Linked DNA regions of Homo sapiens. The protein of the gene in region 2 interacts with the protein of the main gene of each other region in a pairwise test. Each region holds a gene or a part of one and is shown on either strand. Other genes may lie near its edges. The genes, in order: CD40, SLC39A13, PGRMC2, MAPK8IP2, OPRM1 and REL.

Evidence for each region.
Region 1: the proteins of SLC39A13 (region 2) and CD40 interact in binary tests that used the Homo sapiens proteins (3 or more experiments, as listed by UniProt).
Region 3: the proteins of SLC39A13 (region 2) and PGRMC2 interact in binary tests that used the Homo sapiens proteins (3 or more experiments, as listed by UniProt).
Region 4: the proteins of SLC39A13 (region 2) and MAPK8IP2 interact in a two-hybrid assay, tested with the Homo sapiens proteins (one large-scale study listed by BioGRID and IntAct).
Region 5: the proteins of SLC39A13 (region 2) and OPRM1 interact in a two-hybrid assay, tested with the Homo sapiens proteins (one large-scale study listed by BioGRID and IntAct).
Region 6: the proteins of SLC39A13 (region 2) and REL interact in binary tests that used the Homo sapiens proteins (3 or more experiments, as listed by UniProt).

The regions. Positions count from the first base shown.
Region 1 is NC_000020.11:46,121,314-46,124,813, reverse strand, and holds part of CD40 (tumor necrosis factor receptor superfamily member 5 isoform 1 precursor), read right to left. Parts: intron 2,995-3,500; coding exon 2,916-2,994; intron 2,582-2,915; coding exon 2,456-2,581; intron 2,205-2,455; coding exon 2,058-2,204; intron 1,689-2,057; coding exon 1,595-1,688; intron 1-1,594.
Region 2 is NC_000011.10:47,414,293-47,416,996, reverse strand, and holds the end of SLC39A13 (zinc transporter ZIP13 isoform a precursor), read right to left. Parts: coding exon of another isoform or gene 2,573-2,704; coding exon 2,522-2,572; intron 2,221-2,521; coding exon 2,088-2,220; intron 1,959-2,087; coding exon 1,838-1,958; intron 1,710-1,837; coding exon 1,634-1,709; 3' UTR 501-1,633; downstream 1-500. UniProt on the Homo sapiens protein: Functions as a zinc transporter transporting Zn(2+) from the Golgi apparatus to the cytosol and thus influences the zinc level at least in areas of the cytosol. May regulate beige adipocyte differentiation.
Region 3 is NC_000004.12:128,274,314-128,277,813, reverse strand, and holds part of PGRMC2 (membrane-associated progesterone receptor component 2), read left to right. Parts: intron 1-3,500. UniProt on the Homo sapiens protein: Required for the maintenance of uterine histoarchitecture and normal female reproductive lifespan. May serve as a universal non-classical progesterone receptor in the uterus.
Region 4 is NC_000022.11:50,603,793-50,607,292, forward strand, and holds part of MAPK8IP2 (C-Jun-amino-terminal kinase-interacting protein 2), read left to right. Parts: intron 1-45; coding exon of another isoform or gene 46-48; coding exon 49-1,272; intron 1,273-1,575; coding exon 1,576-1,651; intron 1,652-1,769; coding exon 1,770-1,942; intron 1,943-2,032; coding exon 2,033-2,142; intron 2,143-2,865; coding exon 2,866-2,973; intron 2,974-3,128; coding exon 3,129-3,199; intron 3,200-3,500. UniProt on the Homo sapiens protein: The JNK-interacting protein (JIP) group of scaffold proteins selectively mediates JNK signaling by aggregating specific components of the MAPK cascade to form a functional JNK signaling module.
Region 5 is NC_000006.12:154,084,240-154,087,739, forward strand, and holds part of OPRM1 (mu-type opioid receptor), read left to right. Parts: intron 1-2,267; exon of another isoform or gene 2,268-3,500. UniProt on the Homo sapiens protein: Receptor for endogenous opioids such as beta-endorphin and endomorphin. Receptor for natural and synthetic opioids including morphine, heroin, DAMGO, fentanyl, etorphine, buprenorphin and methadone.
Region 6 is NC_000002.12:60,926,574-60,929,342, forward strand, and holds part of REL (proto-oncogene c-Rel), read left to right. Parts: 3' UTR 1-2,769. UniProt on the Homo sapiens protein: Proto-oncogene that may play a role in differentiation and lymphopoiesis.

The DNA.
Region 1 (3,500 bases), on a different chromosome or scaffold from region 2:
GCCTGGGCGACAGAGTGAGACTCTGTCTCAAAAAAAAAAAAAAAAAAAAAAAAAAAAAAAAACTATACCAGTGGTGCCTCCAGTTATCAGTCAACATTTATCAGTAAAAATTTAAGCACCTACCATGCGTCAGGTACTGTTCCAGGTATAGGGGATGTATCAATGGAAGAAAAAAAAAAGGCCAAGTTTCTACATTTAAGGAATTTTCAATCTATTAGGGAAAGGCAGACAGTTAACAAATAAAATGTATACTCCTATTTGTGCAAAAGTAAAAGGAGGGAAATTTTGTGTGTGTTTGTGTGTGTGTGTGTGTGTGTTGGTTTGTTTATATGTAGAATCTCTGGAAGGATATGCAAGGAACAATGGCTCCCTCCAGAAAGAACTGGGAGCCTAAGGGGCAGGGATGGGAGAAAGACATCACTTTGGCTCTTTTGTGCCTTCTGTCCCATGTGCCTATCTTGCCCATTTTTAAAAATCAAATGCAAAAAGTTAATGGGGCAGGTGTTTGTTTTTTGAGACAGAATGTCGCTCTGTTGCCCAGGCTGGAGTGCAGTGGCGCTATCTTGGCTCACTGCAAACTCCACCTTCCGGGTTCAAGTGATTCTCCTGCCTCAGCCTCCCGAGGAGCTGGGATTACAGGCGCCCACCACCACACCCAGCTAATTTTTTGGTATTTTTAGTAGAGATGGGTTTTTACCATGTTGTGCTGGCTGGTCTTGAACTCCTGACCTCAAGTGATCCACCCGCCTTGGCATCCAAAGTGCTGAGATTACAGGCAAGAGCCACCGCGCCTGGCCTGGGGCCCATGTTTAAGGTATTCCAGGCAGATGAGTTTGATGGAAGAGAATGAACAGTGTGTTCAGAGGATTGCAAGTAGCATGAAGCTATGCGATGCAGGAAAGAGAGCAGGAAATGCAACAGGAAGGTTGGGTGCCATGCTAAGGAGTCTTAGTTCCAACAGAGAGACAGGAAGCATCTCAAATAGGAGAGTGTCATGATTTGAAAGAAACTGTCGAACGCTCATGTTGGCAAGAGGATGGAGACAGAACCAGCAGGAGGGGAGAGACAGAGGCAGGGAGGCCAGGAGGCAGAAAAGGCATCACCCAGACCACAGTGATGAGGCCCAAACTAAAGTGACAACAGTGGAGACAGTAAGTTCCCAAAACACGTAGACAGCCAGTGGCAGGACCTGGTGTGGGTTTGGAGTTGGAGGTAAGAGAGGGAGGCCCTCAGGGTGAGCACCCAGAGCCCAGAAAGCCCTAGAAAGCCAGGTAAGGTGAAAGCAAGACGAGGAAAACTGAGGAGAAGCAGGAGGGGCAGAAGGAAAGCTAAAATAAGTGTCCCAATACCCCCAAGATAGGAGGCTCTCATGAAGCGAGAGATCAACAGTGTCTATTACCTCAAAGAGACAGCAGGCAAAAAAAATGTGGAAATGTGCCTGTCTGGTTGGCCATGAGGCCACTCTGCAGATGCTTCACAAGTACATGAGTGTGTGTGGACCTCTGGGAGCAGGGACAGGACAGGTGGCTGGAGAGAATGGAGGCAGCTCCATGCCACTCTTAGAGCAGGAAACACAAGGGATGAGTGCTTATACCTTGTCCAAGGGTGACATTTTTCGAAAGCAGATGACACATTGGAGAAGAAGCCGACTGGGCAGGGCTCGCAGATGGTATCAGAAACCCCTGTAGCTGGGAGTGGGTGGGGAGGGGGACATTAACCATCACAGTGGACCACCTGTCCGGCTCACAAGGCAGCCAGTGGCCAGGCAGGACGGGAAGAGCTCCTGCCTTGAGCACTCTTCCCCCGATGTGGTACTGCCCCCGACAGCTGCAGTCCCCAGGAGGACTTCTCCCATTGCCCTTCAAAGGCAGATCCCCATGGCAGAAGGCAGAATGAACAAGGTCCCGTCTGCAGCTCACTCCAGTGGGGATACCGACATAGGTTGGAGCCTCTGCTTCCTCTGCCTCTGGGGCTAAGTGCCCACTGCCCAGCCCCTCACCTTGGGCCCTAAGCTCCTCTGTCCCCCTCCAAAACTGATTCCCAGATGAGCCACTTACCAATCTGCTTGACCCCAAAGCCGGGCGAGCATGAGCGGTGCAGGACACAGCTCTCACAGGCCTCACTCGTACAGTGCCAGCCTTCTTCACAGGTGCAGATGGTGTCTGTTTCTGAGGTGCCCTTCTGCTGGACCCGAAGCCCTAGGTCTGAGAAGAGAAGGGCAGGAAGGATGGGAACCCCCTGCTGGGCCATGCTCTGAGCCTCACTCCCCACATTGCCTGCTCTTTCTTCCTCAGACCCTCTTCCAAGTAGAGATGGCAATCAAATCATTTAATGATCAGTACAGCCCGGACTCCAACCAATCAGAGCAGACCCTGGCTACATAAAATTAGAATGGCTGCATTGTCGGGAATATCAGCCCGGTTCCCAAGCGTCCCTTTCCCAACAGCGCACGCACTGGGGTCGCAGTATTTGTGCTGGTGGCAGTGTGTCTCTCTGTTCCAGGTGTCTAGGAATTCGCTTTCACCGCAAGGAAGGCATTCCGTTTCAGTGAACTCTGTGCAGTCACTCACCAGTTTCTGTCCTGGAAAACATCAGGAAATGAGGGAGGGCTCTGGCCAACTCCATGAGTCAGACACTAACCACACAATGATCAGGCCAGGCTTTAGGGTAGGGGATTCAAAGATGAAAGTCTTGGATCCTTCATAATCAGGCGAGGAAGATGGAGAAGCTGGGATCCCTAGTTCAGGGTAGACAGAGTTTTACCTGGTAGAGAGGGAACCAGAACATTCTGACAGTGAAGCAGGGCTGGGAAATGGGTCGTTTCAGATTTGAGTTTACAGTTAACATATGGGGTCTGCGTCTGCCACCAAAGCAAAGGGGGACTCCATGATGGGGCTAGAGGGTTGGCATCTCACCTGGCTGGCACAAAGAACAGCACTGACTGTTTATTAGGTACTGTTTTTCTCTGCATGCAGTGGGTGGTTCTGGATGGACCTAAAAACAGAATTGTGCAATTTGAAGGGATCTTGAAATCTCCGTTGCAACTTCTTCAGCAGAAAGGTAAAAGTCATCCAGGACAGAGGCTGCAAACTGAAGTGCAAGTCAAAACAGAAAGTGGAACCTGCATGATATTTGGCATGTTTGTTTTCAAGTAAATTGTCAACTGAGCTGATTATAATCGCACCCAGAGAATCATTCTGGTATTTTTACAAAGCAATGGTACTGTAAACTCACAATATTCTCTGAACAGAACAGAATTCCTTGGGGCTTGATGCCTGAGTCATTCCTCTTCCCAAAGATCCCATAGGATATGGGGACTCCAGCAGCTCCCCTGGAGTCCTGAAGCTGGCTGACTTCAGCTGGTCCCAGTGCTGTTTGGGGCTATGTTTAGCACTTGGCCTCTTCCTCCTATTCTTCTGCTTCCCTTCCTGCTCCTTTCCAAAGCCCATCATGTTTTCTTCCTCCAACTCCTCATCATCTGTTCATCCAGCCCTTCCCTC
Region 2 (2,704 bases):
CGGTGGCTCACACCTGTAAGCCCAGCACTTTGGGAGGCTGAGGCGGGCAGATCACAAGGTCAGGAGTTCAAGACCAGCCTGGCCAATATGGCAAAACCCTATCTCTACTTTTAAAAAAAAGCCAGGCGTGGTGGCACACACCTGTAAATCCCAGCTACTTGGGAGGTTGAGGCAGGAGAATTGCTTGAACCCAGGAGGCGGAGGTTGCAGTGAGCCAAGACCGCACCACTGCACTCCAGTGTGGGTGACAGAGTGAGACTCTGTCTCAAAAAAAAAAAAAAGATAAGGACAGCGTCCTGGAGTTTGTGGTGGTGAGGGGCTAAAATGGCATACGGCCAGGCTCATATAGGTGCTCAGTCATTGGAATAAAAAGTTAAGCCAGGAAGACATGGAACGTTCAGAGATGCACTGGGGTGACAGTTCAGAGACAAGGGCCTGGCAGTGGCAGTAAGGAAGGCCCTGCCTGGCCATGGAAGGCCGTGCAGAACCAAGGCAGCCAGTATGTGGATAATATTTATTTGTATCTTATCTATAGAACAAATATTTACAGATACAAACGGAATCACAGCAAAGTTGCTATAAAACCATCCAGACCTCTCGATGGCCACTTCTGAAAACATCCACGGTGAAGGGCAGGGCCAGGCCTGGCTGTGGAGTGGGCCAGCTGAGTACCTGGGCGTCAGCCAAGGGAAATGGTTGGGGATTATGGCTTCAGCACTCTGCCGGAGCACATTCCTGAGCGCTGACAACGTGGAGCCCTCACCGCCCCCACCTACCCCAACCTCAATGGGGAAGGAAAGGGGCCTGAGCTGGGCAGGGCTGCCCGGGCTCACTATGTGCCTGCTCCAGGAGTCCCTGGCCCCTGTGCTGGCAGGAGCATCCCTGAGCTGGACCGGGAGGCCTCTCTGGCCTGGGGCTGCTCCCTGCCCGGCAGGCTGCTGTTTGGCAGCTGGAGGTGGCAAGAGCTGCTGGTGCTGCCAGGGCGTGTTGGCCAGGAATGAGCTCCCAGGGCAGCCCTGAGGAAAGGGTCTTAGGAAGCGCCTCCCAGCTCACTACTAGGAGCTGGGGACTGTCAGTGCTGAGTGGGGCTGGGGTACAGGAGCACCTGCCTCTCCTTTCTTTGGCTTAGAAGTGGGGAAGGAAGGGCCAGGAAAAGGGACCAAAGCCGCCCCAGCCTTGGCCCCTAGGCCGCCTGGGGACTGTGTGTGTGCTGAGGGGGCAGTGGGAGGTGGGCAGCTCTGGAGTTCCCTGCACCCTGGATCCTTGGGCTGCTCTCACTCCCGGGGTCCCAGCAGGGCAAGGCCTCTGCTTGGGACCAGTGCTGCTCTTCCTCGCTGCTTACTCCGGGAGGTGAAGGTGACAGGGCGGCAAGGAGAGGTAACCACAGCATGGCTGGGGACAGGCGCTACACTGGGCCCCGGACCCAGCACAGGGATCACAGTGTCGGTCTCGCGCACACACCTCTGGCCACATGTGCACACCACATACATCCACACGCACCTCCCTCCTGTCTGGCGGGAGGCTCATTCTCTCTCGCAGCCACTCGCCCTCTCTGCCTCTCACATATGCGGTCACAGAGTGAATCCGAGCATCTTATTGCTGCAGGGGGCAGGGGCGTCGGCATCAGGGAAAGTTAATCCACGAAGAGCGAGAACAGCACCATTACCACGATGCCCGCACAGAGCAGAAGCAGCTGCTGCAGGGAGCGCCTGTGGGGAGGGAACGGCTCACGGTGGAGGCATGGGCAGGGGGAGCAGGCAGCGGCCAGGAGCCCTTCCCTCCTGAGCCCCTAAGGGCCCTGTGAGTGGCAGTCCTCTTCCTCCAACAGGTCACTCACCACGGGTCCTCTTCTTCCAAGAGGTCAGGGAGCACGTTCACCAAGGCGATGTAGAGAAAGCCGCCAGAGGTGAAGGGCAGGACCCAGGCTGCCGTCTCCTCTGCAGCGGGAGAACACCCAACTGGGTACCCAAGGCACTGTGTGTGCTCCCCACCTCCCGGGCCTGGGGACCAGCAGTGCGGTAGCCACACCCTTTGGCTGGTGCCCCTCTGCTGATGCCACCCGCCACAACCACCCGCCACGCCCGTACCTACTCCCTTGGGGGACTGGGTACAGATGGCGAAGCCAGCGCCCAGTAGGCCCCCCAGCGCTGTTGAGAGTTGCAGCTTGGCTGCGCTCCATCGGTCAAAGCCGGCCCGGAGCAGGATGGCAAAGTCGCCCACCTGAAGGGAGGTCCAGAGGTTCACCCTGCGCCCCAGCGGGGCCTGATGCCCTGAGTGCTCAGGTACGATATACACACTGAGCCCCCTGCCCTTCCCCACCCTTCCCCTGGGACCCCCATCCTGAGTATGGCAGAGATGGCAGCTGCAGGCTGCTGGGGTGAGGAGCTCCAGCCCTCACAGCCCAGCCCCAGAGTGCCATGCTGGACAGGCCCAGCCCCACACCCTCCTGAGCTCCACACCCATGCTGATCATGGGCACTGTGGGGGCCTGGGCCCCTGGGGGCTGCCCTACAAGCGCTCACCTCATGGGGGATCTCATGCAGGAGGATGGCCATGGTTGTCAGGAGCCCGATCTGCAGGGAGGGGAGCCGTGGCTGCGGGGTCTGTGTTGAGGGCTGAGCACCCCACTCGCCCACTCATTCCACAGAGGTTTACTCTGCTCTGAGCTGGCTCTGGGTGGGCACTGTGTTGGCCACTGGAAATAC
Region 3 (3,500 bases), on a different chromosome or scaffold from region 2:
GAGGTATTATTTCAGTTTTACCATACTGCATTCTCTCTAAAAGTCTTGGGACTTACTGGACCTAAGCATAAAAAAATTTATTAGTTCAGTTAATCACTTTTACATATTGCCTCATTTGTTGATAGGCTGATTATAATCTTATTTGAAATAAATTACCCAATACTAAGTGTTATTAGTTACTCAATTTATAATCACAAAAGATTATTGTCAAAACAGGCCTGAAAACTGCACTGTTGATAAACTTTAATTAATTAAAGTTCATCTCTGAGAGATATGGTTTTTAAACTGTGAGAATAATTAAAATATCCCTTTAGAAACACTAAGGTAGCTATATAATCATCCTAATAATCACAAAATTATCTGTTACTACATATTTACTTCCTCCTGGAATTTTCTGTTTATTAAATTAATATTTAAAACATTTTACAATGAGCATATGTTGTTGCTGTTTCAAGAATATGTCACCTCATTCTAACTGATTGTATTAAAGTAAGCAGTTTTAGGATACGGTAACAAATAGGTTTATTGAACTTTAAAATATCTTGACCACAAGTTGGATTGACACTGAAAACTAAATGAAATCTGAATTCTGACTAGTATAGTACTTCATGTTGGGTTTGTTTTGTTTGTTTGTTTGTTTGTTTGTTTGTTTGTTTTGAGATGGAGTCTCGCTCTGTCGCCTAGGCTGGTGTGCAGTGGCGAGATCTCAGCTCACTGCAAGCTCTGCCTCCCAGGTTCACGCCATTCTCCTGCCTCAGCCTCCCAAGTAGCTGGGACTACAGGTGCCCACTACCATGCCCGACTAATTTTTTGTATTTTTTAGTAGATACTGGGTTTCACCACGTTGGCCAGGATGGTCACGATCTCCTGACCTCGTGATCCGCCTGCCTCTTGTTGGTATATTTAACAATAGCTTTGAAATAAAATTTATCTTTAAAATGATGTCCTTGAATATTTGTTATGTAAGTATATTTCAGAGTATTTGCTTTGACTGAATAATGCTGTTCATTTTTTGTAGCACGAATTTGCTTAAAATTGGGAGGCTGTTTTTGGATCAGCATTATATTTTAATATTTGATAAAGCAACAGAATTTAATTCTTCTAGTTACTACTGAACTGTTAGTGTCTAAATGAGCCTTAATAATAAAAAATAACCAGATCATGTAAACTAGCCTTTTTAAAAATAAATTAGGCTGGGCACAGTGGCTCATGCCTGTAATCCCAGCACTGTGGGAGGTTGAGGTAGGCGGATCACCTGAGGTCAGGAGTTCAAGACCAGCCTGTCCACCATATATGGTGAAACCCCCTCTCTACCAAAAATATAAAAATTAGCTGGGCGTGGTGCCACACCCAATAATCCCAGCTACTTGGGAGGCTGAGTGAGGCAGGAGAATCACTTAAACCTAGGAGGCAGAGGTTGCAGTGAGTTGAGATCACACCACAGAGTGTGACTCTGTCTCAAAAAAAAATACTAATACAAATAAATAAATTATACCATGCAACAGACTTAAACCATTTCAAATTGGCTTTATTTGGGGAGCTCCCTATTGTTTTAGTATTATGAATAGCCAAGTATACTTACCAAATATTAGAATTGGTAAATATTTAGGTTTTTTATGTAAGGGGATAACGGAATGGGAAGGTATTGCTGACTTTTCAGATAAGCTCCTGGTTGTATTATGAATGCAGGGAAATCTCCTTTTATTAGACATCAAATCCTTCCTCAGAATAACCCATCCAGTTCCAACTTTAGTTCCTAATGTTATATTCTTTAATGGCCTTACAGAAGGCTGGGCATGGTGGCTTAGGCCTGTAATTCTAACACTTTGGGAGGCAAAGGCAGGAGGATTGCTTGAGGCCAGGAGTTCAAGATCAGCTGGGCAACATAGGGAGACCTTGTCTCTACAAAAAATAAAAGAAATTATGCAGGCCTGGTGGGCCATGCTTCTAGTCCCAGCTATTTGGGAGGTTAGGGCAGGAGGATTACTTGAGCCCAGGAAGTAGAGGCCACAGTGAAATATGATTGAGCCGCTGTACTCCAGCCTGGGTGACAGAGTAAGACCCTGTCTCAAAAAACAACAAAAAAAATTTTTTTAATGGTCTTACAGGAAAGAGCATAGAAAATTATTACTAAAAAGACCTTTGCAGAAGTTAAATGCTTCCTGAGGGAAATTCTAAACATATGGAGAAGACAGCTTAATATAGTTTAGGGAGTGGGGGAATATGTTAATCACTGAATTATTCTTTTCTATTCAAGAGTCAACAGAACATCATTTGTCTGGAATTTGGCTTGGATTATTAACTGTTGACTCAAGTTCACTCTTACCAAGTCAATCATTCCCTACCCCCAGTACCCCAGAAAGAGCATATTTTATGAAATTTTTTATTATTATTATTCATTCAGTGTTGAAGCTTTCTTAGGGAAGTTGGTAGAGAAATTAATAGAGAATGCACTGGTATATATTAATATACTCAAAGATGGAGGGCTTTCTGATTGCTGTTTTTATAATGATTTTATCTTCTCTCCTTTGTATCATTTAAATGTGTTTTATGGCTTATACTCTGAAGTGCCTGAAGTAGATTAATGTTTGCAGGCCATGGAGATAAATACTATAATAGAATGCTTAGAAAAGCTATTAAGTAGAGCTTTTTTGTTAATTCTCTTCCATTTTGATTTAATAAGTATTCTAAAATTTTCATTCCCTTGAAATTTTGTAAGTAGTAAAATGCTCCAGTTTTCATGGTCGTTACTCCATCTTTGGGCTTGTGAGTCTTCTATGTGTTTTCTTGAGGTACACTGGAGGATTTAGGAAAGTGGAAATAGTACTCTCAGTTCTGTCAGTAATTTTAGGCAAATCACACTGAATGCCTCCGCTCCTGTTTTTTATCTGCCAAATGGGGAAGGCAGTCTGTCCCTTCCACTTTGGGAAACTCTGAGAGAGAAAAGTGAGGTTGCTGGAAAATTCTTTTAAAAATTGAACCTATAATTTTCCATTTGTAGATTGTTATGGCCTTTATTAGTTTTATTTTTCCTTTTGTATGTTTCACTTTTTGCTTTTTTAAGTTTATAAGCATTGGTCTAGTCAGCATTAAGGGTAAATATAATGTTTATAGATTTTTTTTATCATTGTTTCTTAGAAATTTTTATTTTTAAACACACTAGTTCTCTGTCTCTGTCTCTCTCCTTGTCCTCCTGAAAACACCCATTGCCACAAAGTGTGTAGAATTTTGCACGCACATGTGCATGTACACACACAGACATAACTGGTTAATACCTTTTTTTTTTTTTTTTTTTTTTCTTTGGAGAAGGAGTCTTGCTTTCTCGGCCAGGCCGTAGTGCAGTGGCATGATCTCAACTCACTGCAACCTCCGTCTCCTGGATTCAAGCAATTCTCCTGCCTCAGACTCCTGAGTAGCTGGGATTACAGGCGTGCGCCACCACAGCCGGCTAATTTTTGTAGTTTTAGTAGAGATGAGGTTTCACCATGTTGGCCAGGCTG
Region 4 (3,500 bases), on a different chromosome or scaffold from region 2:
GAGGCCTGGGTGGTGCAGAGAGGGTGACCCCACCTCCCTGCCCAGCAGAGCTCCCGGGCCCCCTCCCTGCCACGGACACCGGGCCCGGCGGGGCGCAGTCGCCAGTGCGCCCGGGTTGCGACTGCGAAGGGAACCGGCCTGCGGAACCCCCTGCGCCAGGGGGGACTTCGCCCTCCTCAGATCCCGGCATCGAGGCTGACCTGAGAAGCCGCTCGAGCGGCGGCCGCGGGGGACGTCGCAGCAGCCAGGAGCTGTCCTCGCCCGGCTCCGACTCGGAGGACGCGGGCGGCGCGCGCCTGGGGCGCATGATCTCGTCCATCTCGGAGACGGAGCTGGAGCTGAGCAGCGATGGCGGAAGCAGCAGCAGCGGCCGCTCCTCGCACCTCACCAACTCCATCGAGGAGGCCTCGTCGCCCGCCTCGGAGCCGGAGCCCCCGCGCGAACCCCCGCGCCGCCCCGCCTTCCTGCCCGTGGGCCCCGACGACACCAACAGCGAGTACGAGTCGGGGTCGGAGTCGGAGCCGGACCTCAGCGAGGACGCGGACTCGCCCTGGCTGCTCAGCAACCTGGTGAGCCGCATGATCTCCGAGGGCTCCTCGCCCATCCGCTGCCCCGGCCAGTGCCTGTCTCCTGCGCCGCGCCCGCCCGGGGAGCCCGTGTCGCCGGCCGGCGGGGCCGCCCAGGACTCCCAGGACCCCGAGGCGGCCGCGGGGCCCGGCGGCGTGGAGCTGGTGGACATGGAGACGCTGTGCGCGCCGCCGCCGCCCGCGCCCGCCGCGCCTCGACCCGGCCCCGCGCAGCCCGGGCCCTGCCTATTCCTCAGCAACCCCACGCGTGACACCATCACGCCGCTGTGGGCCGCGCCCGGCCGCGCCGCCCGCCCGGGACGAGCCTGCTCCGCCGCCTGCTCCGAGGAGGAGGACGAAGAGGACGACGAGGAAGAGGAGGATGCCGAGGACAGTGCGGGGTCCCCCGGGGGCAGGGGCACGGGCCCCTCGGCGCCGCGGGACGCGTCGCTGGTGTACGACGCGGTCAAGTACACGCTGGTGGTGGATGAGCACACGCAGCTGGAGCTGGTGAGCCTGCGGCGCTGTGCTGGGCTGGGCCACGACAGCGAAGAGGACAGCGGCGGGGAGGCCAGCGAGGAGGAGGCGGGCGCGGCGCTGCTAGGCGGCGGTCAGGTCTCGGGGGACACCTCGCCGGACAGCCCTGACCTCACTTTCTCCAAGAAGTTCCTCAATGTCTTCGTCAACAGCACATCTCGGTCCTCCAGTGAGTGAGAGGTGGGGAAAAGGGGGGTGGCCCAGAGGAAGGTGCAGACTCCCTGGCCCCAGTCCCAGGGTCCCCCACAGTGCCCAGGGCCACCTGAGGGTCTGGCTGTGGTCAGGGCTGGGTGCCCTCTCCCACCCAGGACATGGCATGAGGTGGCCTGCTCTGCCTCAGCTCCTTCCCGCTCGTAGGACACCTACACCGGACTGTGGAGGGGACTTGGCCTCTGCCCAAGGCCAGGCCTCTAAGCACTACTCTGACTCTGTCTCCCTGTCTCCCCCGCCTCTGTCCTGCCGGGTCTCCCAGGCACCGAGTCCTTTGGCCTTTTCTCCTGTCTGGTCAACGGCGAGGAGCGAGAGCAGACTCACCGGGCTGTGTTCAGGTACGGCCTCCCTCCTTGCTGGCGGTGGCCCCAGCCTCAGTCCCTGCCATCACGGAACGCCAGTGGACACGACCGTCAATCCCGCCCCCCTCCCCAGTGACCTCTCCCCCAACGGCAGGTTCATCCCGCGGCATCCAGACGAGCTGGAGCTGGATGTGGATGACCCTGTGTTGGTGGAGGCCGAGGAGGACGACTTCTGGTTCCGTGGCTTCAACATGCGCACGGGGGAGCGCGGTGTGTTTCCTGCCTTCTACGCCCATGCGGTGCCCGGCCCTGCCAAGGACCTGCTGGGTGAGGTCCCAACCCCGAGGGGAGGCTTTTCACCCCAGATCCTCCCCTGTGCCCCTGCCTGACCTGGGCCCTCTGTGCCCCGCTCCCCAGGGAGTAAGCGGAGCCCCTGCTGGGTGGAGCGCTTTGACGTGCAGTTCCTGGGCTCCGTGGAGGTGCCCTGCCACCAGGGCAACGGCATCCTGTGTGCAGCCATGCAGAAGGTCAGTGTGGAGGCCGGGCAAGTGCAGGCTGAGGGTCCGCTTGGCGGCCACACCAGCACTGCAGGCTGGCACAGGGCTTGAGGCTCCAAGGTCTGAGGTCTGATTTCCTCCAGGGAGGGTCTGGGGGATGCTGCAGGGGGAGCTCGGGGTGGGTACCCCAGGCCCTGGTTCAGAGGCCTGAGCAGGTGAGTCTAGGGCAGAGCACAGCAGCTGTCCCTCATCACCTCTGGGTCTCTGGGCCACAGATCTTCCAGGTGGCCCCGACTGCCATCAGCCCTTCCTCTTCCCATCTGGAATCAAGACCAGCCCTCACAGCCCCTTCCCTGGGAGCCCTCTACTCATCCACTCACTCAGTGGACGTTTAGTGAGCACCTGCCCAGGCACCAGTACTGAGGCTGAGGCTGGGGGGCAGTAGGGAGCAGGGCAGAGCAGCCCAGGGCGGGTGAGGTCTCTGTTCCTGGCTCCTGAGCCAAGCGCAGCAGCCTGCCTGGAGGAGCAGAAGGAAGATGAAGCAAGCTGACTGCAGAGAGGCGATTGCTCCTCCTGAGCCTGAGGAGTGGCCAAGGCCACACCCCTTATGTCTTCCAGAATTGCATCTCAGGGTCCTCAGCATGTGTGTCCTCAAACATAAGCTAAAAGGAGCAGAGGCGTAGTCCCACCAAGGGGAAAGAAAGGCCCTTGTGGGCTCCTCAAGACCCTCTTCTCCCCCAACTTCTTCTGTAGATTGCCACTGCCCGGAAACTGACCGTCCACCTGCGCCCTCCTGCCTCCTGTGACCTCGAGATCTCTCTTCGGGGGGTCAAGCTGAGTCTGAGCGGAGGAGGGCCCGAGGTGGGAGTGTGGGGGACTGGGGACCGGGGACTGGGGGATAGGGTTAGGCCACGGAGTCCGACGGGGCCAGGCTGGCAGGGGTGTCCAGTAGGTGGGAGGCAGGGGTGGCGCCAGGCCTCCTTTGACACAGGGACTTCTGCCCACCTCTGCTCTAGTTCCAGCGCTGCAGCCATTTCTTCCAGATGAAGAACATCTCCTTCTGCGGCTGCCATCCCCGCAACAGCTGGTGAGAGTCTGACCGTCCCCGAGTCCCCCAACCGCCCCCACAAACCCTGAGAGTCCAACCGCCCCCTGAGTCCCCACAGACCCTGAGGGCTGCCCGTGCCCAGCCCTGAGAGCTCCACCTGCACCCACTTAGCTCTGTGAGCTGAGCCTGCAGTGGCGCCTGCTCTGAGCTGGACTCAGGAGGCGTGGGTCAGACAGGCTTGCATCCAGTCTGGGTGGAGAGAGGCACACGGGCGAAGGATGTGAGAAGCCTGTGTGGGTGCAGAGGACGCCTGAGTGGGCCTGGGGCTCAGGATGGCCAG
Region 5 (3,500 bases), on a different chromosome or scaffold from region 2:
CAACATTTTATAGCAAAGTGAGAAGTCCTCCATTCTCCCCTTCACTAAGCTAGTGGAGAATATAATACAAAATAGCAACCTAATATATAGTCTTTCTCCATGTTAATGCCAATGAGAGGATAATCACTAGTTTTGATTATGCTTTTTCTTATTTTAGAACCTCCCCCCCCAACAGACAGACAGACACACACACACACACTCACAAGTAAAAACGCACCTGGGATATCAGAATGGAATAGATGGATAATAATGGATCAATTAACTCAGGTAGATACTCATTTGACCATATTCTTTGCCTAAATAATTACTTGAAATGTAGGAAAGTATCTTTATCTCATTGGATTGATCCAATTAAATATGAGTATTAAAGTATGACACTCTAGGGAGGATTTTTTTCTCGACTAAAAAGGTTAATTTCTATGTGAGGGTAAGTGGACATAAAAGTCATGGCAAATGCAAGAAATATATCTTTCCAAGCACATTGCTGAACATATAAAAGGGGCTTGTTGAATTCTTACTGAATTAGGTATCTTTCTTCACACTACTTGGTAAAAAAAATGAAAAGGCAGAAAAATTAGCCCCAAAAGAGATGAAACTCTTCCGTCCATCACCATTGACTCTATTGTGAACTTATGAAAAAGGTAGTTGAGCAATATGAAGGCCATGATGTGGAATTAAACACACACACACACACACACACACACACACACACATGCTGGATTCTAAAATGTGTCCTTCCTCCTCTCACTCTCTTGATCAGTTTTATTTCTGAACTGAGACACGATCACCACAATTCAAATAATTAACCACAAAACTAAACAGAAGTTTACAAAACCCATCAGGTGTACAGAGGTAATTTATTTAGTCTGGCTTCACTTAACACAAATAGGTCAAAAGCAATCACATTTTGTAAGTAGTAATAGTTGGAGAAATGTGTGAAGAATAGGTCAAAAGATAAATAAGAATTATTTTATAACCATAAGAAAGGAAGAACATCTATAAACAAAAGTCATATATGCAACATAAAAGAATAGGTGAGCTGCCAGCAAATGGGCCTCACAATGCCTTTTCCCCAACACTTCTGGAAGTTCCATAAAAATCACTCTAATGGGTCAAACATCGATGGTTCTCAGAAGAACACAATTTTTTTCAAAAACGAATAGCATTGTAAATTCATTTGAATTCATAAAACAAAAGAGCTATTTAATCATCTAGACCAAAGTTAAAGAAATACCTACTACAAAAATTTTAATGGGATAATTAGAAAGAAATAGCTTGGGCCACTGCTTCGAGCAGAAGATGGAGTTCAGTGGCTACCATAGGAAGGGTCAATATCAGGATGGCCTGTGAGTCCAGATGAGTCTCTCTTTGCCCATTTTGCCACAGAACACATTCACAGCACAGTACAAAGCAGTAGGCATGGAGTAAGGAAAAAGGCTTGTGTTTTAATAGCCAGGAGTTCTACTCGGACCCACTCAGGTAAACTGAATGGCAAAGATAATTCTTCCTGCAGGTCATTTCTTTTGCTAGTTTGCTAACTCTGAGTCCTATGCTCCTGTGCAAGGCCCATGATGTGACTCTGAGCATTCATTGAACTTTGCTGGGACAACATTCATGCCACCACATCAGAACAGAATGAAAGCTTGCCCTTTTTTTTTTTTTTTTTGAGACAGTGTCTCTCTCTGTTGCTCAGGCTGGAATGCAGTGGTACGATTCTCCTGCCTCAGCCTCCCAAGTAGCTGGGATTGCAGGTGCCTGCCACCACCCCCAGCTAATTTTTCTAATTTTAGTAGAGACAGGGTTGACCAGGCTGGTCTCCTTCCCCTGCCCTCAAGTGATCCATTCACCTCAGCCTCCCAAAGTGCTGGGATTATAGGCTTGAGCCACCAGGCCCAGCCCACATTACTCCTTTTCTGATTAGACCATCTCTTCAGATTAAAGCCTTTGGGTATATGCTGGAGGCAATTGGAATTCTTAATCCTTTAGCTTTGTATAATTTTCTTTCACATATTTAGAAGATCGTTGAGCCCCCTTTTATATGTTGCTGTGATCCAAAGCATGAGTAACTGGGGTAAGAATGCTGGCTATCTTTAGAGGAAGACTTTTTAAATAAATTGAGAAAAATTAAACAGCATCATTCCTATAAAATGCCCGTTGAAAGAATTTTTATAGATAAATATTCACTTTTTTTTGGTAAATTGATGATAAAATTATGTATATTTACCATATACAACATGATGTTTTGAAATGTATACACATTGTGGAATGGCTAGCATGCTAATTAACTATGCATAACCACGTTTCCTTTCACCATGTTGAACCCTGACATAATTTTTTTTTCCACAAACACCTCACTCTGGAGAAGGAAATGATTTTTTTTAATTAAAATAAACATACATTGGAAATACTTAGTGCTAAAATAAGCCTGAAGGAAAGGTTGGAAGTATGATGAGTCAGAAAACTGACTGTAAAGAAACCAATTACTTAACATAAAACACCATTAAAGATAAGCCACGAAATGTAAGGTCTGCTGGGTAGGAAAGTGGCAAATGCAATGAAGCATGTCTTTAGATCATGCAGGTCTATAACCAACGGTGAATCTAGCAAAAGTTATTTTCTCTTTTGGGGAGAAACTTCTTCTTATTAAAAAAATAAAAAATGTTTCAACTTCTTGAGCACCAAGGTCAATTATTCTAAATCTTAAAACCACAGTTTTAATTTTGCTTTTTTGTTGGTTTTTGTACTTTGGAGTATTTGTCTACATTATCCTTTTTATATTTGCCATATTTAAAGTCCAAACTAAAAGCAAATTATTTTCTCTCCTCAAGTTAAATGGCTCTATCTTTTTCTTTAAAATCCATTAAGAAAGTGAAACTCCCAAAGTAAGTCCAAAAAAAAGCCCCCAAGTCTGAAAATGTGGAGCTTTTCTGGCAGTAATGCAGCTTCTGCAAGTATTGCAGACCAGATCAGGTATCAGAATTTTAAAGCTTCAGTAACAAAGCTGTCCTATTGACCCTGAGGAGATTTATGAAATCACTTTCCTGATGTTATTGAAACCAAAACACTTTCCTGGACACTGAATTCAGTCCTAAACAAAGGGCCTCCAACCAACAGCTGTCTTGGGCTGAATGAGTTAGACTCAACCTCGTGTGACGGAAAAACAGTAAACACAAGCTAACATTTAAAAGGAATTGATGGCACCGTGTAAATCAGAAGCCCAAGGAGGGCCTGGCTTCAGGTGTGGGGTTCTCTCTCACGCTCTCAAATCCACATCCTCCGGATTAGGTCCATTTTCAGACAAGCTCCTCCAGCAACTACATACCATGCGTCTTCTCAGGTGTGGGTCCTGCAGGAAAACTAATACACTCTTTGTCCATAAGTCTCAAAATAAACTCTCACTGGCTCTGGTTGGAACATGAGAGCATCCTTGCCATTCACCATGGCCCCGGTCACTAAACGTCTTCACGCCCTGGACTGGTAATACAGCCTATCCCAAAGCA
Region 6 (2,769 bases), on a different chromosome or scaffold from region 2:
TGCTATTTCCCCCTACCCGCCCTCCGATGATCTTATCAGAGCCCACAGGTTCAGTTTTCTTTCATGCTACCTGAATGTCCTGATAAACTGGCTCGCTCTCTTCTTTACCTTCCATAATGGCATTACCATTTACCACGCCACCCAAGATACTTACTAGGAACCTCAAAGTATTGTATTCTTTTTCTCCATCACACTCATACTTAATCATCAAGTCCTTTTGAGCTTGTCTCCTCTTGAATATGTCCCTTCTTAATTCCTGCTGCCTTCTTAGTAAAGGCCTTCATTCTTTTTTCCCTAGTAATAATCTTTTCCATATGTTCCAGTTAAAATACCATGTTCTCCCTATTCCTTATTACATAGCTAGCATTCCTTGAAAAAAAACAATTCTCTCAGGCCTCCATACCTTTAGCATGTTACCCACTCTGCCTCTGCTCTTCTGGAACTAGAACACTCATCCTTGAAGGCTGGGCTTCTGTATGAAGGTTGGTCCTGCCTCCTTACTTGAGGTGAAGCTTTGTACATGCCTGTATTACGGACATCCTCTTATTTAAGTGTTTGTCTCTTTCGTCATTGGGACTCCAGCACCCAGCATAGTCCCTAGTATACTAGTTGGTGCTGAATAAATAGTAGCTATTATTAGAAAAGGAAGGGTGAAATTGACATGGGAGTTAGTAAAATGTATATGGAAATGATTTTTAAAGGGAAAGGTAATGATTTTCTGGCAGGAAAAGCAGCAATGACAAGATTACTTAAGTCTTGTGAAATAACACTTCTCTTCCTTGACCTGCTGCTTCCCTTTTTTACCACACACACACGCACACATACCACAGCCCTTTGAGACTGAAAGCAGCTCTATTGAGAATAGTAGTGTCAACTGTATTATGTAGAAATTCTAAAGTTTTTGGGATTATTTCATAGCCCTGACCTTGCTACTTCTCTCCACTTTATGTGGCAGGTTTAATCTCAGGTCTCCCTCATACACTTCTCAGCCTCAGCACCTAACCCTCACACAACACTCCAGTATTGATGCAGTCAATCTTGTATAACATTTTTTGAATGTCCAATGTGCAAAGCACGATGTTGGAAATTATACAGAGGTGAATAAGACAAAAACTCTTGCTCTCAAAGATGTCAGTCTTTTTCTTTGCAAGGATAACACATGTAGAGTAAAATGCATAAAGGGGACTAATTTTAAATGTACAGCTTAATTAATTTTTATGTATGTTAACACCCATGTCACCACCATGTTTAGGACATTTCCAGCACCCCTGAAATTTCCTTCATGCCCCTTCCCAGTCTGTACCTACACCTCTAAATCTATTTTCAATCTTAATGGCCTTTTAAATAACTGGGCTTCTCACAACCATAGTGAACAGAAACAGCTGGGTTGTCAACGTCTAACCTAATACTTCAGGAAAACTCATGATGGTTTCCATGTTAAGAGAGACATGGAGCAGGGCACTGGCATGGTGGATGGATCACGCCTGTAATCCCAGCACTTTGGGAGGCCGAGGTAGGGGGATTGCTTGAGCCCAGGAGTTCAAGACTAGCCTGGGTAATATAAGGAAAACCTGTCTCTGCAAAAAAAAAAAAAAAAAGAGGATACAACCAAATGGAAGAACATTCCATGCTCATGGGTAGGAAGAATCAATATCGTGAAAATGGCCATACTGCCCAAGGTAATTTACAGATTCAGTGCCATCCCCATCAAGCTACCAATGCCTTTCTTCACAGAATTGGAAAAAACTACTTTAAAGTTCATATGGAACCAAAAAAGAGCCCATATCGCCAAGTCAATCCTAAGCCAAAAGAACAAAGCTGGAGGCATCACACTACCTGACTTCAAACTATACTACAAGGCTACAGTAACCAAAACAGCATGGTACTGGTACCAAAACAGAGATATAGATCACTGGAACAGAACAGAGCCCTCAGAAATAACGCCGCATATCTACAACTATCTGATCTTTGACAAACCTGAGAAAAACAAGCAATGGGGAAAGGATTCCCTATTTAATAAATGGTGCTGGGAAAACTGGCTAGCCATATGTAGAAAGCTGAAACTGGATCCCTTCCTTACACCTTATACAAAAATCAATTCAAGATGGATTAAAGACTTAAACGTTAGACCTAAAACCATAAAAACCCTAGAAGAAAACCTAGGCATTACCATTCAGGACATAGGCATGGGCAAGGACTTCATGTCTAAAACACCAAAAGCAATGGCAACAAAAGCCAAAATTGACAAATGGGATCTAATTAAACTAAAGAGCTGCTGCACAGCAAAAGAAACTACCATCAGAGTGAACAGGCAACCTACAAAATGGGAGAAAATTTTCGCAACCTACTTATCTGACAAAGGGCTAATATCCAGAATCTACAATGAACTCAAACAAATTTACAAGAAAAAAACAACCCCATCAAAAAGTGGGCGAAGGACATGAACAGACACTTCTCAAAAGAAGACATTTATGCAGCCAAAAAACACATGAAAAAATGCTCATCATGACTGGCCATCAGAGAAATGCAAATCAAAACCACAATGAGATACCATCTCACACCAGTTAGAATGGCAATCATTAAAAAGTCAGGAGACAACAGGTGCTGGAGAGGATGTGGAGAAATAGGAACACTTTTACACTGTTGGTGGGACTGTAAACTAGTTCAACCATTGTGGAAGTCAGTGTGGCGATTCCTCAGGGATGTAGAACTGGAAATACCGTTTGACCCAGCCATCCCATTACTGGGTATATACCCAAAGGACTATAA